Regions from separate parts of the Homo sapiens genome. Here region 2 is linked to region 1. Evidence: fine-mapped expression QTL. A gene starts in region 1. The other region holds a variant in brackets. All regions are shown on one strand. Distances are between the middles of the regions.

Evidence for each region.
Region 2: its variant is fine-mapped to the expression of SLC15A3 in whole blood (INTERVAL, PIP above 0.99).

What each region holds. Positions count from the first base shown.
Region 1 is chr11:60,949,223-60,954,594 of GRCh38, forward strand. It overlaps SLC15A3 (solute carrier family 15 member 3), which reads right to left and starts at 2,954. Exons shown (of 8, transcript NM_016582.3): 1 at 1,772-2,954. The coding sequence starts at 2,329. RefSeq lists silencers at 2,237-2,396, 2,717-2,946 and an enhancer at 3,127-3,266.
Region 2 is chr11:60,888,293-60,893,664 of GRCh38, forward strand. It overlaps PRPF19 (pre-mRNA processing factor 19), which reads right to left. Exons shown (of 16, transcript NM_014502.5): 16 at 2,255-2,971. The coding sequence ends at 2,874. Among named protein-coding and RNA genes, the nearest start is that of PRPF19, 16 kb to the right of the region's middle. The variant T/TA (reference allele first, on the strand shown) is at 2,293.

The sequences.
Region 1 (5,372 bases):
CTACTTGGGAGGCTGAGGCAGGGAGAATTGCTTGAGCCCGGGAGGTGGAGGTTGCAGTGATCTGAGATCGCACCTCTGCACTCCAGCGTAGGCAACAGAGCGAGACTCCGTCAAAAGAAAGGAAGAAAGAAAGGAAAGAAGGAAAGAAAGAGAAAGAAAGAGAGAGAGAGAAAGAGAAAGAAAGGAAGAAAGAAAGAAAGAAGGAAAGAAAGAAAGAAAGAAAGAAAGAGAAAGAAAGAGAGAGAGAGAAAGAGAAAGAAAGGAAGAAAGAAAGAAAGAAGGAAAGAAAGAAAGAAAGAAAGAAAGAAAGAAAGAAAGAAAGAAAGAAAGAAAGAAAGAAAGAAAGAAAAGAGATGGCCAGGGCTGGCCTGGGGGCATGAAGTCATCATCAAAGGATCCTAAACAAGCTGGACAAGTGACTCCTTGTCAAGGACACTGGAAACTGCTAGGTGCTGAATTGTGGGTGCCAATTGGATGAAACGATCCTTTTGAAAAATGTCCCCTTTATGAGTATAATATGTGCAATCAAAGAACATTTGATAAACTGAGACAAGAAGAAAGTGCAATTAGTCCAGTGGCCTGATCATACCACTGTGACAATCTTTTTCCAGTTTCCTTTCGTTGACACCTCGTCTTTCCACATGGCTGCAGTCCTATCTGTATGCAGTCCTGCCTCCTGCTTTTGCTCATTTACACCATATGTGGTTATTTTAATAATATTACATTTTAGTCTAAATTATTGTCTAATATCCCACTGGGAACAGCTATCAAAATATAGCCGTGTTGTTGGGCATTTACTCATTCATTTAGCAAATACTTATTAAATTTCTTCTACGTGCCATGCTCTGTTCAAGGGGGAACGGAGAAAGGCTCAGAGGTTGAGCTAAGGGAGAAGACCAGGCAGCCCATTCAGGATATAAATGAGTTCTTGCCCATGTGGCTCCAGCTAGTGAAAGGCAGAGCTGGGATCTGAGCAAGTCGGCCTGACAGCCTCTAGCACTGCTGGTAGGAAGAAGCTGGCTTGCTCCTGCCCTGCCCGCACATCCCCATAACACACAGAGAGGAGGTTCATGGTGGGACCTGGAGTCCAGCTGCCTTTACTCGGCTCCTCGACCCTCCATGTCACCTTGGGCAAGTTGATTAATGCCATGAAACCTCTCAGTGTCTTTCTCTGTAAAATGGGCATAATAATTCCTACTTCCTGGGTGGTGAAGAGTATTAAATCAGTTAAACAGTGAAAGTGCTTAGCATAGGGCCTGCAAGTAGCTCAAAAAAGACCAACCTGCCTGGCGTGGTGGCTCATGCCTGTAATCCCAGCACTTTGGGAGGCCTAGGCAGGTGGATCACCTGAGGTCAGGAGTTCAAGACCAACATGGTGAAACCCCACCTCTACTTAAAAAAAAAAAAAAATTACAAAAATTAGTTGGGCGTGGTGGCAGGCCCCTGTAATCCCAGCTACTCTGGAGGCTAAGGAGGGATAATCGCTTGAACCCGGGAGGCTGAGGTTGCAGTGCGCTGAGATCGCGCCATTGCACTGCAGCCTGGGCGACAGAGTGAAACTCCGTCTCAAAAAATAAAACAAACAAAAAAACAACCATGGTTATTCCCACTGCGGTTGCCATCGGTTTTGCAAGGGCTAGCCCCCCTCTTCTTTCAAATCAGGAAACTAGTGCAGGCAGGGGACCTGGTTTGTCCCAGGTCACGCTGGGGGCCAGCCCTCCTTCCCTCCACACCCGCCGGAGTATGCCGGGGCAGGCCTCCTGCCACTCACCTGGTCGGCACCGAAGGAGGTGAGGTTGCTCCGGACGGAGCTGGCGGCCAGGCCGAGTAGCAGCAGGCCCGCGTAGAGGACGGGCGCGCAGTAGGGGCTGGGCGAGGAGCGCGGGCAGCCGGCCGAGGGGCAGGCAGGTCCCAGCGGCGACGCGGGCATCTCTCCGCAGAAGGAGCTGCGGCCGTCGGGGAAGGCGGTGGCGGGCAGCAGGCCCGAGGCGGCCAGGTAGAGCAGCAGGCTGAGCGCGACCGCGCGGTAGCGGCCCAGGTACACGTCGGCCAGCCAGCCGCCCACGGGCGCCAGCAGGTAGGAGGCGCCCAGGAATACCAGCGCGGCGCGCGTCGCCTGCTCGCCGGTCCAGTTGAAGTTGGTGCTGTTGAGGTACAGCACGAGGTTGGCGGTGACGCCGAAGAAGGCGGCGCGCTCCAGCATCTCCACCAGCAGCACGGCCGCGCCCGCCGCCCGCCGCCACCGTCGAGGGCCCCGCGCACCGCGAGGCAGCAGCGGCTGGCGCTCCCCGGGCACGCGGGGCTGCTCCCGGGCGCGCGGCGCGGGCATCCTGGCTCCGGGCTGGGCCCCCCGCGGCTCTTCTCTCCTCTCCTCTCCCCGCCTCAGAGCCCTGCACTCCTGCCCCCGGGCCTCGGCCCTCTCCCCCACCCAACTGGCTGGCCCTCCTTTCTCACCGCTTTGGCCCACCCTTCCCTCCTGTCCCCTCTCCCTTTCTTGCCCTACCCTTCCTGTCCCTCCGCTCACTACCCGGACTCTACCACCTCCTCCCTAATTCTCAACTCCCCTCTCCCTTCCCCCACCCCTAAGGCTTCCTCCCCGCGCCTCTCCTGCAGCTGTTTCTCCCTAACTCTCCCCTCTCCTCCCTCCACCTTGACCCTTCCTCGCACTCTTGTTCACACTGCGACCCTCCCTGCTTCACTTCGCTGCCCCTCCGCCTCCCTTTCCCCTCCCCGTTTGTCGCCCCTTCCTGTTGTCCCCTCTCCTTATGACTCCTGGCCTGCCCTGGGCGTGGGGTGGGGGCTCCCTCTGCCCCAGTCACCCTGCTGCCCCTTGCCGTCTTCTCCACCTCCTCCCTGTCCCCCTCACCCCCACTGCCTACACTCCCCTCTCAGTCCCCTGCAGCCCTCCCCCCAGGCTCAGCCTCTGTCCCTCTCTCGGCTTCTTGAGAAACTCTGGGCTCCCCTCGCTTCCCCTTTCACAGGCCCTATCCGCAGTCCCCTGCCTGCATCACATGGCGCTACTGGGTGTTTAGGAGAAGTGAAAGCCTGGGTCACAGGGCTCCTGCCCGGTCAGCTTTCTAAAAACCTCCCTCCTTCTCTACCTCTGCCTCCTACCCCAAACCCCCGCTGCTGGCCTCCTTAGAGCCAAAAAATTCCAGGAGGAATTTTTTCTTTCAGTTTCATTTCTCGCCAGGATTCCACTTTTGCTTTACCCTCTTCCAATCAAACTCCACGCCTCCACCCGAGGCGCCACGGGTAGAAAGAAGTGGAAAGGCTACCTGCATCATTTGGTCACACTCAGCCATTTCACAGATGCAGAGACAGACCCAGTGGGGCTAGGGCAGGAAGGTGGAGAAAGATTGGTTCCTGGTAACTGAACTAGGGGTGAAGCCCTGCCCCGGGCTCCTGAGTGGCAGGGAAATTCACAGCGCAATTCGGATTGCACAGAGGCTGCTGTGAGGAAGGAAGTGGGGCACTTTCAACAAGCCTGCGGGCCATAGAGGACCACAAGTGAGTCGGGATTGAGAGGGACACCGACCTCAGACTAAATCAGAGTCAGCCTCAGAACTCCTAAGCACCAGCCCCACCCTGACCTAGGAGCCCGGGGGATCTGGCCTCTGCTCTCCTCTGATCTCATCTCAGCCCCATGTTCACTCAAGTCCAGCCAGCCGGCCTCCCAGGTTCCCCTTCCATGCTAAGCTCCTCCCTGCCTCAGGGCCTTTGTCTTTGCTGACCCCTCTGCCATAACTGCTCTCCCTCCATATCCTTGCATGGCTGGCTGCTTCTCTTTATTGAGGTTTCAGCATATATGTCTCCTTTGTAGGGACCTTCCCTGATTTTCCCATCTAAGTAGTTTCCTACTGGATTCTCAGCATCCCCCATCACATTGTCTTGTTTTAATGTCTTCAGAGCACATATTACTTGTTCAGTTAGCACCAGTAGAATAGGCCCTCCATCAGATCAGAGACCTTTTCTAACTCTTCACTGTTTTATTCTCAATGGCTTCCCAGTGCTTGGCAAATAGTAGGTGCTCAATAAGTATTGCCTGAATCAATGAATGGAAAGAGTGTCCCAAGGCAAAATTTGTAAGAATAATAATATCAGGAAAGCTAAAGCTAAATAAACTGAGTCTCACAAAAGCTATAGATACCAGCAAAAAAAGCACTATAGATACCAGCAAAAAAGCGAGGGATTTTTTGTTGTTGTTGTTTGTTTGTATGTTTGTTTTGAGACGAAGTCTCACTCTGTCGCCCAGGCTGCCATGCAGTGGCACAATCTCGGCTCACTGCAACCTCCACTTCCTGAGTTCAAGCAATTCTCCTGCCTCAGCCTTCTGAGTAGCTGGGATTACAAGCGCGTGCCATCACGCCTGGCTAATTTTTGTATTTTCAGTAGAGATGGGATTTCACCATGTTGGTCAGGCTAGTCTCAAACTCCTGACCTCATGATCCACCTGCTTCGGCCTCCCAAAGTCCTGGGATTACAGTTGTGGGCCACTGTAAGTTTTTAACATGTTAGAGAAGCCAGGCCAAGAGGATGGTGAGAAAGCAAAGCCCTCCATCCCAGGTCTTCCTGCAGTCACTGCAGTCAGGACCATGTGCTCTCGTGAGGTGGGCAGAGCCTGGAGGAGAGAAGAGGAGACTTCAATGGAGCTGCACCATCCCTCGACTTGGAGGAAGCTTAGGTCATCAGCTGTGACGGTATGGTGACGAAGTTCAGATCACATCAGATCCAGCTCCTTCCTCTCTTGGCAAGATCACTAGGCTGGCAGATGAGCTCAGACTTAGCCCAGAGAGCTGAGTCTTACCCAGAGAGCTGAGAGAGTGCTGGCCTGCCATCGGTGATGTTCAGCGGGTGGTAGATGAAGGGAAAGGCTTCTAAAAGCAGTGTGGCCTGCAGAGAAAAACCCAGGAGAGGAAAGTAGCAAAGAAAAGAGGAGTGCAGCATCTTTTTTTTTTTTTTTTTTTTTTTTTTTGAGACAGAGTCACACTCTGTTGGCCAGCCTGGAGTGCAGTGGCACGATCTCGGCTCACTGCAACCTCTGCCTCCCAGGCTCAAGCAATTCTCCTGCCTCAGCCTCCTGAGTAGCTGGGATTACAGGCGTGTGCCACCACGCCCGGCTAATTTTTGTGTTTTTTAGTGGAGATGGGGTTTCACCATGTCAGCCAGGCTGGTCTCAAATGCCTGACCTCAGGTAATCCATCTGCCTTGGCCTTCAAAAGTGCTGGGATTACAGGTGTGAGCTACCGCACCCAGCCCAGCGTCTTTCTTACTGCCCAGCCTCCATCTCCAAGGTACCAGGGGGCCAGGTGCTGGGCTGGTTCACTGGGGAAAGTCCTGGGGACACATTTAGCTGGGGAGAAGGTAGGGGT
Region 2 (5,372 bases), 61 kb before region 1:
TTCAAGGTAACACAGAGCTATGCTAAAGGCATGAACCATGGGCTCCAAGAAAGCTCACTCACCTGGCAGGGCAGCAATGGGCTCCAGAGGCTTCCTGAAGGACTTGGTCTATCTCTGGGGAGGGCAGACTCCAGGGAGAGGGAGCAGGAGAGTGGTAATAGTTAATAGTAGCAGCATTTATGATGTGCAATTCCTATTCTAAGCACTTGTCACATTCACTTAATCCTTACTATATCTCTAGTAAGTACACTATCCCCATCTTTTGGATGAAGAAACTCAAACAGAAAAAAGTTAAATAATCTGTCCAAGGTCTTGCAGCAACTAAGTGCCAGAACTGGGATTCAAAGCCAGAGAGTCCAGTGCCAGGACTATGCTCCCACCTTCTGCTCCGTTCTGCAAAGGAAGAGCGGTATGAAGTCCTATGCAGGGACCAAGAATCTGCTGAGTTGCTGGACAGCAAAGAGCAAGGTTGTTTTCTTTTTTCTGAGACAGAGTCTCGCTCTGTCACTAGGCTGGAGTGCAGTGGCACAATCTCAGCTCACCGCAACCTCTGCCTCCCGGGTTCAAGCGATTCTCCTGCCTCAGCCTCCCAAGCAGCTGGGACTACAGGCATGCACCATCACACCCAGCTAATTTTTTGTATTTTTAGTAGAGATGGGGTTTCACCATGTTGGCCAGGATGGTCTCCATCTCCTGACCTCAGGCAATCCACCCACCTCGGCCTCCCAAAGTGCTGGGATTACAGGCATGAGCCACCACACCCGGCCAAGGGCAAAGTTGTTTTAAGAATTAAATGAGTGGCTGGGCGTGGTGGCTCACGCCTATAATCTCAGGACTTTCGGAGGCTGAGGCTGGCGGATGACCTGAGGTCGGGAGTTCGACCTCAACCCTCTCCCACTCGAGTGACCCATTCTACCATCTGCAAACCATAGCTGTTGTTAGCCCACCTTTTAACTAGGCAGTTGTCCTAACTTTTTTTTAAAGTATGTCCTGCCTTGGGAGAACTGTATGATTGGTCTTTTTTTTTTTTCTTCCCCAAGACGGAGTCTTGCTCTGTCCCCCAGGCTGGAGTGCAGTGGCACAATCCCAGCTCACTGCAACCTCCACCTCCTGGGTTCAAGCAATTCTCCTGTCTCAGCCTCCCGAGTAGCTGGGATTACAGGAACCTGCCACCATGCTCAGCTAATTTTTGTATTCTTAGTAGAGATGGGGTTTCACCTTCTTGGCCAGGCCGGTCTCGAACTCTTGATCTCGTGATCCGCCCGCCTTGGCCTCTGGAAGTGCTGAGATTACAGGCGTGAGCCACCGCACCTGGCCCAGGTCTTTTCTTAATAATAAACACTGGTGTAAGTTAAATGGTTTATATTCAACTTGTATAAGTTAAGTGGTTTCTTTACTGTGGGGTTTTTCAGCTTTCCCTAGCTAGTAGGCATCCTGACCCTCCCAGGCAGATACGGCATGCCGAGCTTCCCTGACAACAGAACACTGCCCCAGCAAAACATGCCTGGAGGTCTCCTGTTATGTCCACAATATGGCCTACCATACTTTGCCCCCAAAGCTCCCCTCCTGGTAACACCCCATTTCTCAGCTCCCCTTCTCAGCACTATTTTTTGTCTATAATCACTGACTCCCACACTTCCTCACCTCATATCCTCTTACCCCACTCCAGGGAGGCAGCCAGCCCCGACCTTCCACTGGGATGGCCCTTGTCAGGGGACTGTCAATCACCCCAGACTGTACACCATGGTTCCCCCGACTTTGCCACCATGACCTCCTTCCTGTTCCTCCATATATCTCGCTCAGTCCAGCCCTAGAACCTGCTCTCTGCCTGCCAACACTCCTCCCCTCTCAGGTCCCTCTCATTCCAGCTTCAGCTTCATCACCACCACTTCAGAGGCCTTTCCTGACCTGCAATCTAAAGCAGTCACGTGACCCTACAGGAATTCCCTATAAGGCACATTCATTATCAGATCTTTGTCCCGAAACCAGTCCTACCACAGCTTTTCAATCGCCAGAGTCAATAAAAAAATCTCCTTTTTGACTTATGCCAGCTGAGGACAGGCTAGAAAGCCTACAACTAAAGAACCCTGATGGAGATGCTCAGACCTCCCCACCAGCAAGATCCAGCTAATCTTCCCTGCAGGTCTCCCTCCCTTCCAGGCTTGTGTAGGAAACCAAGTCTACAAGGCAAGTGGCAGGACTAGTGACTTGAGGCCTTTAGACACAAGGTCAAGAACCGCAGGGACATGGCAAATTTCATCTGCAGATTTGTTTTTATTTCTGCTGTGCAAT[T/TA]AAAAAAAAAAAAAAAGGGTAAGAGCTGTGAAAGGAAAGGAAGATGGGCTTCCCGGAAGCCAGTGTCCCAGTGTGTGCTCCCTCCCCTTGACCTTCCCAGTCCCAGGTGCTCCTGGTGCAGACAGACACGGGGAGGTGGTTATGGTTATTGTTTTCTTTTTTTAATGAAACTAGATCACTGCTTACAAAACCCTGCACAAGCCCTCCTGCCCATCCCCTTCACAGTTCCCTTGGCTCAGCCTCTCCTGTCTCACAGGAACTGCAACAAAATGGGTGTGGAACAGCCACCACCACGTCCATTGAACGACAGGAAGGGAGAGGCCCTGGGCTCCGACCCTGGGCCTTAAGAGGGTGACAGTTCTTCCTTCCACATCCGTTCCCATGGGGCCTGGAGTTGCATGGATGAGGGTGGTCCATGCCACCATGGTTCTCAGGCCACCACTCAGACCAGAGTGAAATGATGTGAATGTCCCACCCCACAGAGCCCCCTCCCCCCATAGATTCCCCCCACCCCCCCCCCCAAACCCTAATTCTACCCCTCTACTGAGATGAGGCCCAGCTTCCATCAGAAGGGCCAGGGCCTACAGGCTGTAGAACTTGAGGCTTCTGTCCATGCCTGTTGAAGCGATGAACTTGGCGTGATGCCCGAAGGCCACCCCTGTGGTCAGGCCGCTATGCTCTGAGGAGAAAGATAAGAGGCAACTGTGAGAAGGCTTTTCCTCCTTTAGTCTGAACACTGATCCCTAATAACAGATTCCCAAACAACCAGGCCTTCTCTAATTAGTATTTATCACACCGCAGGCTCCTGTTTGTTTTCCCTAGGCTGACCTGCACACTACCCCCAGTGCCTCCCTCAGTGCCTGGCATTTTTCACTGGTGGGATGAATGAATAAAGCAATGCCAGCCCCCCCTTCTCACCTGAGCTTTCTGGGCAACTGCAGTTCGGCTAGGTTTAGTTGAAAAACCTCAGAGCTCAGCTTGTTTATGCCTAGTGCTCACTACTTGCTCGTAAGTGGAACAGTCCATCAGCATTTTCTAGCTCATAGTGTTCCAACCCCAGGGCACTCAGGCCCCTAACACAGAGCAGGACCAGATAAGAGGCAGATGAGGCTGGGCAACATTCCTCATGGGACTCCAGAAATTCATGAACATCTGGCCAAATTCCTTCTAGATTTAGGATCACACCTGGAGTCAACCAACTCCCCATTAAAAAGCTCACGCTGTATTTTCAGCTACCTAACTCGGTTCTAAATCAAAACACCAGGTACAGTACAGGGTGAAAACCGGTGAGCCATATTGTTAGGATGGACACCTTTGTTATACAAACACACTGAGCAGGGCTCAGGAGAATACGGGGCAAGAAGAAATATCTTGTATCCTGCTCACAACCTGCTAATGAGGACGAGAATTTCATCAACACACACAGCAGTAGCTCCCATTCATGTAGCATCTTAAGTGAGCATCAGGCACCCTGTTACCAGCATATTAGCATGCCATCTCCACAACACCAGCTGTCACACCCTGCAAAGCTGTGCCAATATTCCCATTTTCTAGATGAAGGAGTTCAAGATCTGAAAGGGAAAGTCACGTACCCAGGGCCACATAACTGTTAGGTTAGAAACCCTGTTACCCATTCTCTCAGCATCTCATGCTTTTCTTCTCTAGCACTTATAATTGCAATTAAATGTGTACATGTGAAATTAATCTACATCTGCCTTACTAACCTGACTATAAATTACATCAGTGCCCAAATCGGGTCTGTTTTATTCACTGCTCTATCCCACCACAGACTAAGACCCAATGCTGAGTGAGAACAACTGCAAATCCTGACTACGTGCCAGACACCGTTCTGACCTATGTATTCACAGACGGTCCCCGATTTACCATGGTTCAACTTGCAATATTTTCAGCTTATGATGCACTTATCAGGATGTGGCTCCATCGTATATCAAGGAGCACCTGTATGTATTTTCATCTAAACCTCAACAACCCCACTGAGTCTATAGTTACCATTCCCACTTTTCTGAGAGGTTAAGTAATATTGGATCTCAGAAAACAATACCCCAAAGTATGGTGGTTTGGCACGCTGAGGGCTTTGAACCAAGGTCTCTCTGACCATGTCCTGCCCTCCTGTCTCTTGCCCCTCTTTCTCTAAGGGCAGGTCATCTGAAAGGAACATCATGAATCCCCTTCCTGGGAATCTCAACCAGGGAAAATGAACTGGTCTCACAAGAGAGAAGACTAGATGCCAGTCTTTGTCACAGACTGTCATGCATTATTTATCTAAGGTCTGCTCTGAGACAACTTTTATTACCTGAGAGACTCTGTAGTGCACTTCCTCCCCATCCCCCCACATAACTTGTGTCACCACCACCCCCTAGAAGCCTTAGGCCCCTACTCCCTTCTGCAGTTCAGGATGCCATAGAGTCATGTGTCACATAATGACATGTCAGCGACGGACCACACAAACACTGGTCCCATAAGATTACAGTGGAGCTGAAAAATTCCTATCACCAAGTGATGTCATAACCATCATCATGTCACAATGCAATGCATTATTCACGTTTGTGGGGATACAGGTATAAACAAATCTACTACACTGCCAGTTGTATAAAAGTATAATATAGCTAGGCGCGGTGGCTCACGCCTGTAATCCCAGCACTTTGGGAGGCCGAGGTGGGCAGATCACGAGGTCAGGAGTTTGAGATCAGCCTGGCCAACATAGTGAAACCTCATCTCTACTACAAATACAAGTACAAAAAAAAAAAAATTAGCCAGATGTGGTGGCACACGCCTGAAGTCCCAGCTACTCGGGAGGCTGAGGCAGGAGAATCACTTGAACCCAGGAGGCGGAGGTTGCAGTGAGCCAAGACCATGCCATTGCACTCCAGCCTGGGTGACAGAGCAAGACTCAATCTCAAAAAAAAAAAAAGTATAACATAATTAGGTACAGTACGTTACTGGTTTATGTACAGACATATCTCAGGGACATCGCTGGTTCAGCTCCAGGCTACCAATAAAGCAAATATTGCAATAAGGCAAGGCACACAAATTTTTTTGGTTTCTCACTACATATAAAA